Linked DNA regions of Homo sapiens: region 1 is linked to region 2. Evidence: fine-mapped expression QTL. Tissue or cell type: fibroblasts. Region 2 holds a variant in brackets; the other region holds the start of a gene. All regions are shown on one strand. Distances are between the middles of the regions.

Region 1 (4,161 bases), 110 kb after region 2:
CTCATACAATGGCCAAAAATGCCACCAGAGCTGCCACTCCTGCCAAAACTGCCACTTCCCACATTAACCGTCACTGCTACCTAGTAAGTGATGGTAAACAATACTTCTGTTCCCACTTTTGGACAAGGGAAAGACAGATTTCTGAGTTTCTAAATTAAATGCATTTTTCAATAGATAGTTAAATTATACACTATACGAGTAGTATACACCGATTACATGGATTAGCCAGGAAACCCACTATTTTTAATATTGCTTAAGTTTAGATATGGAAAAATAATTTTTTGAATTGTTTTACTATTGCAACATACCTTTTTTACACTGCAAATGGATGACACTGGCAAAATGGTTATGACAAAGACTCCTTCAATAAAGGCTGGTACTATATTTTAACAAACAGGTAAAGTTAATGGCATTTTTTCCCATTCGGGAGGATCAACTAGAATTTAATCTGGATTAAAGAATGATGTAGAATTTTTAAACAGACCATTAGTATTGAAGTTATACTAAATTAAAACCACACACGAGTAGCAGAAAATATTCTTTATAGCTAGCAAAAGCAAAACAACTGAAAAAAATGAAGAATAAGCTCAAGATTTCTCACTTCAACTAACACCTCCAGACTGCATTATCATTTTAGGCAAACTGACATTTTCACATTTACTTTGTAATGGCAAGATTGATTTCCATCTGGGACTTATCTGCATAAAAGTGTTAGCCTTGGCACAATTTCAAAATTGAATTGAAAGCTCATTTCTTGCTATAAGCAAAGTGCCACAATACCACACAACAGTTATACCTCACATTAATCCTACCACTGGGAGTCCAATTTTATGTGTTTCAGCTAGCGAATTCTGCCCTCAGGTAAGCACATAACTCTATAAAACCCTTCCTCGATCATCAACAAATCACTTATCTCTACTACCTTAATGCCTCCTGCACTTGTCCATACTAAACAGTATTTACACGTTAAAAGAGAAGTTCTACAAATGCTACTATTCTTCATAAATAGAAAAAAACTATAAATGAGGGCAAATTCCCATACGTGGAAAAATGCCAAACCAGAAGCTGAAATCATAACTTTTAGGTATAGAACCACAGCTCCAATCAGTCAACTACAAACGTCGCCGGTTACTTCGAGGGTAAATAATTTGCAGCCAGCTGGTAAAAAGCCTGATAAAAATATTAGGTCCTCACATATCTTCCTTTTCAATAAGGAGACACCTGAAAGTCACACTGGGCAGTCTGTCACGTATCGAAACATGCAGAAGAGAGACTGTACAGAACGTGCAGTTATCAAACGCAGGAAGCCAAAGTTCCTGTGCTATGAGAGGACCACAGTGAAAAACGGTAGCCCATCTGTCCAAAGAACAGAAAGAAGTCCACCTGGAAAGGATGGGAGTCGGCGGAGGGGGGCGAGAAGAACGAGTTCCACGCCGTCTTCCTCCTCCCGGGCTAACTGCAGCCGCGGGCGGCAGGAAGGCAGCCGCGCGGGGTGGGCTCTTGGGGACTGGGCGCAGGGCTCCGCGGCGCGGCTGGGCTGCGGCTGCCCGATCGGCGAGGGCCGGGCCCCGGGAAGTCTCCAGGGCCTCGCCCGCGCAGCCAGGAAAGCATGCAGCCCACCGACGGGCGGAGGAACCGCCCGGGCAAAGCCACGTCGGTGGCTGACCGCGCGGCAGGGAGGTGGGCACCCTGTCCACACCCACCAGGAGGCTGACAGCTGGCGAGCGCCAGGCGGCCGGGACGGGACAAGGGCCGCAGCGCGCCGGAGGGGGTCGCTCTGAGAAAGCCGCGCTGGGCGCTGCCCGTCGCCAACGACTCCCCCTCGCCCGGATCAGCGGCGGCTGGATACTCACGTAGGGCTGGTAGAACTTGGAGAGCCGCGGCTTCCCGTGGTTGTTGAAGATTAGGATCGCCTTGATCATGGCTGTGCCGGGCCGACCGGGTGGGCACTGGGGGCCAGGGCGGGGGCGGGCGCGCGAGCCTCGCCTCGTAATCTCGCCTGCGATCCTTCCCCACCCGCCCCCTCCCGCACGCGACCGCGCGCGCTCCCGAGCCGTCGGGCGGGGCCCAAGGGGCGGGGCCTGGGCGGGGCAGGCACTAAGGAAAGCGGAAACATTTCTAGGTCCGAGCCAGCGGCCTAACTGGAGTGTGCGCATTCGACCGAGCACAGACACGTTGCCCACCGCTCCTCTCCCGAGGTCTGTAGTCGCGGAGAAACACATGTTGCGTTACTAACGTTCAGAGGTCTGCGACAGCTTCGATTTGAATGACTAGCCGGGAACACCAAGTTTCACTGTGTAATTGCGTCCCCCTACTCCGGCGCCTCCTTTGCGACGCTCCCTGGAGAAAAGCACGCCCACTGCACGCGCTCAGTCGCTACTTCCGCTCTCGAGTGTCTCCAAGCAAGATGGCGGAGGAGCCGCAGTCTGTGTTGCAGCTTCCTACTTCAATTGCTGCTGGAGGGGAAGGACTTACGGATGTCTCCCCAGAAACAACCACCCCGGAGCCCCCGTCTTCCGCTGCAGTTTCCCCGGGAACAGAGGAACCTGCTGGCGACACCAAGAAAAAAAGTAACTGAATTTATTTCCGGGCAGAGAGGCGGGAGGTTCAGATTGCATCCGAGTAGGGGTGGCGGCCAGTAAAGAAGCAAAATTTAGAGGAGCGCCTGTCCTAGACCTGCATTTTGACCAGTCATCAGAAGAAAAGAAGTGTACTTTTTGATTTTTAAGGCCTTTAAGTTGAGTGTTAAAATACCATCTCTGTCTATCGGTGTAGGGCCTGATACTTGGCTGCCACACTTATTTTTATACTGTATTTTTTTGAGTTGGCCAGACTGCGAGCTCTTTGAAGGAGGGAGGGAGCTGAGTGGGGCGGGGGGAGGGGGGTCTCGGTAATTCCAGGTACTTAACACAGGAGCTAATTATTTGAGTAATGTTTTATGGTGGTAGGGGTGGTCATTGGCAAAGCCTGGATTAGAATTCATGCCTTCCAACTTAACTCGCTTTTGCTTTTTTCCCCCTCCCAGTTGGTTGTGAATTCACTCCTTAAACCAAAAACCAAATTCTTATGCAGAATGAAGACTGCTAAGGGAAAGCTAAAGGCATAGATGTTACCTTTTTAAGAAACACATTTTGGAACCTTTGTGAGTTATTTCATTGCTTGAGTCAGCTATCCTCAACCCTTTATTGCTTGAGAATGTTTCCCTTTGTAAAAGAGATTGCTAAAATTACGTGTTCTAAAGCACTCTGTTTAGAGTTAGAGTTGCCTATGGGAAAAGCAGCATATAAGCATCCTCGATTCAGAGAGGCTGATTTCGTCCTTAGACGTTTTCCCCGTTCTGTCTTAAGATGACAGTGGTCTCTGGCCGGGCGCGGTGGCTCACTCCTGTAATCCCAGCACTTTGGTAGGCTGAGGCGGGTGGATCACCTGAGGTCAAGAGTTCGAGACCAGCCTGGCCAACATGGTAAGACTCCATCTCTACTAAAAATATAAAAGTTAGATGGGTGTGGTGGCGCGCGCCTGTAATCCCAGCTACTCGGGAGGCTGAGGCAGGAGAATCGCTTGAACCCGCGAGGCGGAGGTGGCAGTGGGCGGAGGTCTCGCCATTGCACTCCAGCCTGGACAACAAGAGCGAAACTCCGCCTCAAAAAAAAAAAAAAAAAAGACATTGGTCTCATTGCTTTTTCTTCAACTTCTGCTACTGTGGAGGATAATTCTCTCCCAAGACTGCCCCCCTTCCCACTTTAAATCAGACTCCCATTTCCACCTGATGCACTATAAGTATTTCCATGGATAGCCACTGGAATCTTTCTTCAAAAGAATTCCGCAGGTTTTACAGTGTTTTGTTGCATTTTTTCTTCCAATTTACTATAGGCAAGAGCGGACGTTCGGAGATTCGTTTTAAGGTCTAACAGTCTTAGTCAAAACTTGTTACTTGACTCTGATGATAGCTGTGCAAAACAAAAGCTAAAAAAAATGGCTTACAATCTAAATATTGCCCGAGGGCATATTTTCTTGGTCTGGACAGTATTTTTTTGCAAATTGAACTGTCATTTAAGGATGAGATTTTTATTTTCTGGCTCTTGTTAGCATTTGAGTTTGCCTCTCCAATATAAAACTTAGTTTCTAACTATTCCTACCTTGTGCTTGTCATTATTTGTT
Region 2 (4,358 bases):
GAAGATGTGGAGAAATTGGAACTCTCATACACTATTCATGGGAATGTAAAATGGTGCAGCTGCCTTGGAAAACAGGTAGTTCCTCAAATGATTAAACTTAGAGTTACTATATGATCCAGCAATGCCACCCCTAGGTATATGCGCAAGAAAAATAAAAACATATATCCACACACAAATTTGTACACTAGTGTTTATGGCAGCATTATTTATGATAGCCAAAAATTGGAAACAACCCAAATGTCCATCAACTGATGCATGAATAGACAAAATGTGGTGTATCTATACAATGGAATATTATTTGGCCATAGAAAGAAATGAGTACTGATATGTTCTATAACATGGACGAACCTCAAAAACATTAGGCCAAGTGAAAGAGGCCAGTTATGAAACACCACACATTGCATAATTACATTCATATGAAAATTCAGAATAGGCAAATTATAGATACAGCACATAGGTTAGTTGTTGCTTAGGCTGGGATATAGGGGACAGGAGAGCATAGAGCTAAAAATATGGAGGTTTTTTTTTGAGGTGATGAAAATGTTGTAAAATTAACTATGGTGATGATCGCACCTATCTGTGATTATACTAAAAACTGTTAAACTGTATAACTTAAATGGGGGAGTTGTAGGATACATAAATTATATCTCAATAAAGTTTTTTTTTTTTTTTTAAGTCAACAGGGCTGTGCGCAGTGGCTTACATCTGTAATCCCAGCACTTTGGGAAGCCGAGGCAGGAGAATCTCTTCAGCCCAGGAGTTTGAGACCAGCATGGGCAACATAATGAGACACTGTCTCTGCAAAACATTTAAAAATTAGCTGGGCATGGTGGCATGTGCCTGTAATCTCAGCTTCTTGGGAGGCTGAGGTGGGAGGATCTCTTGAGCTGTGATTACTGTGATTACAGTGAGCTGTGATTACTGTGATTACAGTGAGCTGTAATCACACCACTGCATTCCAACATGGATGGGAGCAAGACTCTGTCTCAAAAAAAAAAAAAAAAAAAAAGTTAACAAGGTGTGGCAGTTTGGTGCAATGGGAAATGAAGTAAAGGAATGGGTCCAAGATATTTCCAAGGCAACCTATTTGGGCCAGTGGGAGAAGGCAGCTTTAAACGTGTTGTCTCTTTAGTGACAGTGAAGGAGACACATGTTTAATGAAGTGATCAGAAAACAGTGATGTGAGACTGCTCTTCCCACAGAAGGCCAGGTGGGGTCCCTGCTTCTTGGGGACCTGGGCTTATTTTAGAATGACAGAACACATCAGGGACCAGATTTCAGAGGCTGCTACAACTCCACAGAAATTTAGAAGTAGAAGGAAAGTTTCCACTTTCCTCAGAGGGCTAAATGGCAGTTTATTTATAATATGATGTTTTTGTTGCTGCAGGACTTTCTTGGCTTCTGTCTGTTGAATGCAGGTCCCGGCTGGCTCACCTCAATATCTGCATTCCCACCGAGTTAACTCCCTGTGTTGCACATAAGTTCTGCTCAATAATTCTTGTAGTAATTTCAAATGTAGATTTTCACTTTTACTATTTTACCAAATGTTTGAAACACAAAGATAGTTGTACCATCAGCTCATGCCTACCCAGCCCCATCAGCATTGCCCTACAACTCTGCACAGACATTTAGCTTGCTTTTTTGTGACTTTGCACGATCTGTATAATTGTTCTTGTTAATTCTAAGACATTTATATTTGTGGAACAATATCACACATATTGGATGACTTCATCCTGTGTGTTTGCGGCATTTCTGGCCTTCTTCTATCTGGTTTTCCTTCTTTGTGACAAAATTCCAAGGGAAACCAATAATTAATGGTGCCTAAAGAGAAAAGGCGGGAAGCCCCACTTGGTGATCTGAAGATGCTTGTTAAATCAGGTCATTGACCAATCTCTACATATTGTGTAAATTTTGGAAACACACATCTATGTCATATTGGGTCCGACATAAGGAGTGCTATAATGATTTTTCCTACTATAGTTGTGCTCCTTAATCAAAAAAATCACCTCTCTCTCTATTGAGGAATCAAGTAAATCTGCACAGTAATGAATGTTTCAAGGTCTGAACCTGGCACTTGATAAACATTGTCTTATTTAATTCTCAAAGATAAGGAAACAGTCTCAGAAAAGCAAAAGAACTTGTCCAAGGTCACTTAGCCAGGATTTGAAACCAGATCTTCCTGTTTACAAAGACTTGACTAAATCTGAAAAGGCTACATACTCTCATTCCAATTTGATGACATCCTGGAAAGGGCAAAACCATGGAGACAGTAAAAAGATCAGTGGTTTCTAGGGGATGTGGGGAGGGACAGATGAATAGGTGGAGCACAGAAAAATTTTAGGGCAGTGAAACAACTCTGTATGATACTATATTGGTGGACACACAGCATTATACGTTTGTCCAAACCCATGGAACAGACCATACCAAGTGTGAACCCTGATATAAACTATGAACTTTGGATGATCGTGGTGTGTCAATGTTAGGTTCATAATGATAGAAGCTACAAATGGAGGTAGGGGGTATATGAGAAATCTCCATACCTTCCACTCAACTTTGCTATGAACTTAAAATTGTTCCAAAAAATGAAATCTATTTAAAAAAAAAAAAAAAGAC[T/C]AGGCTGGTAGCTGATCTGTTACAAAGGCTTCAACTGCTTAATACTCCCATTAGTGTTATATCCTACAATTATGAACCACTTATTTACAAGTGTTAAATGCATTTGAGTGATGGGCCATCACTTAATAATGCCCTTGAATGGTGGCAGTCTCCAATCCATGCTAGGAGATGGCTGTGCAACAGTTCTCACAGCTGGGGAGTGGCCGCAACAGAACCAAATATAGTAACTCCCTGCCACCCAAGGAGGAAGAATCCTAAAAGCAGGCCTGGTTTTCTGTCTCACTTTTCCAATACTTAAAAATTGACCATCTCCAAACTCAATATTGCCAAATAATTCACTCACTTCCTTCATTTTGAAAATCATGCTCATTTAAGAGGAAATATAATCCATATACTTCTGGTTCCATTATACTTAGATCATCAGCAATATGTTCTTTTGCAATAGGTGTCCAAATATCTTTTGCAATAGATGTCCAAATGTCTCTGGAGACTTTTTTTTTCCACGAGGGCAGGAAGCTGCATTTGGACAAGAGTAATCACCAAAGTTCACACTTGAAAATTCAAACCCATAAGGTTTAAATTGCAAACTTGCCCAATCCTTAAACCGAAAAGACTCCAAAAAGCAATAATAACAAGGAGCTGGCAAGTATTCATACATGACAGCTGGAAAAGGGGGTGGGGTGGAATGAGAGAAGAGGACAATGACTGATGTGAACACCATGGGGAAGCCAGGCTCTGCAGGGTCCTTTGTCGAATCCAGGAGGCATGGTGTCCTTGGAGTCCTGATGTCCTTGTTGTGGAGTCAGCAGGGGCAGAAGCAGCCAGAAGAATACACCAGGCTCCATGAGGGAATTCATGTTGGAAACAGAGCTAGGACTTAGATCCATATTTTATATAACACTGAATATCTGCAGCTGGGCCCTGAGGCTCTTATTTGTTCAGATGTCATATATAAAGGTCTCTACTTTTGCTAGCCTGTGACAGAATTTCAATCTGGAATATTGATAAAAGAGTATGAAAAGCTGATTTTTCATAGTCAGTGGATTAAACAGTAACTCTTTTGATGATACCTATATAATGTAGTAACTTACTGTGTTTATTTTTATCCTGATTTAGAAAAGATTGAGTATTTGCTCAGTTACAATAAACATCATCAAATGGAAATAAAATTTTATTAGCTTGAAAAAAACAAGAGTAAATAAATTGTTCTTAAAATCATTGACATGTAAATATATCCTATTGTTAATTGCAGATAATAAAGAGTAAAGACTAAGTATGTATGAAATCCGACCAAGTGGGCATTCTCCTGGAGAAAAGTTAAAATTAGATGAGTCCTAGTTAAAAGAATCATGTTAAAGCATTAGTTGTAGAAGCAATAATAAAAATATGCATGATGGGGTTCTGCTGTGACATCATGAGCCTCACAGAGACACAGGCAACATAGGCAAACATGAAATTATTGTGGCATAGACAAATTCCACATGGGGCGGTATGCCTCTGAGTCTTATATTACTCACATATATTGTTTTGTAAAGTGCTACTCCTGGCCTCTTTACCAAGGAAAGATGTAAGGTGAGGAAGAGGGAGTTGGGGTGCACAAAGAAGAGAAAGCTCAAGGAGGCTCTAGGAACCAAGGAAGGCAGGAAGAGAAAAGATATTTAATGCAGCTTGAATGGTGTTTATCCATTTTGTTGCTTCATCACTTTGAACCTGTGGTCCTCAAGTACATTGGAATAGGAGAAGAG

Direction of the effects. Alleles are on the strand shown, and positions count from the first base shown. SD is a standard deviation of normalised expression in the study named.
With allele T in place of C in region 2, the expression in fibroblasts of the gene that starts at base 2,025 in region 1 is higher (small effect, 0.09 SD a copy in GTEx).

Evidence for each region. PIP is the estimated chance that this variant, and not a neighbour inherited with it, causes the effect.
Region 1: it holds the start of AP3S1, and the variant in region 2 is the best candidate, but not a certain one, in a credible set for the expression of AP3S1 in fibroblasts (GTEx, PIP 0.58).

What each region holds. Positions count from the first base shown.
Region 1 is chr5:115,839,799-115,843,959 of GRCh38, reverse strand. It overlaps AP3S1 (adaptor related protein complex 3 subunit sigma 1), which reads right to left and starts at 2,025. Exons shown (of 6, transcript NM_001284.4): 1 at 1,854-2,025. The coding sequence starts at 1,922. ATG12 (autophagy related 12) reads left to right here and starts at 2,395. Exons shown (of 4, transcript NM_004707.4): 1 at 2,395-2,570. The coding sequence starts at 2,408. RefSeq lists enhancers at 1,179-1,388, 2,379-2,428, 2,439-2,738, 2,127-3,028, 3,032-3,532 and silencers at 1,479-1,668, 1,769-2,148.
Region 2 is chr5:115,947,173-115,951,530 of GRCh38, reverse strand. No RefSeq gene overlaps it. Among named protein-coding and RNA genes, the nearest start is that of LINCADL, 7.2 kb to the left of the region's middle. The variant T/C (reference allele first, on the strand shown) is at 2,614.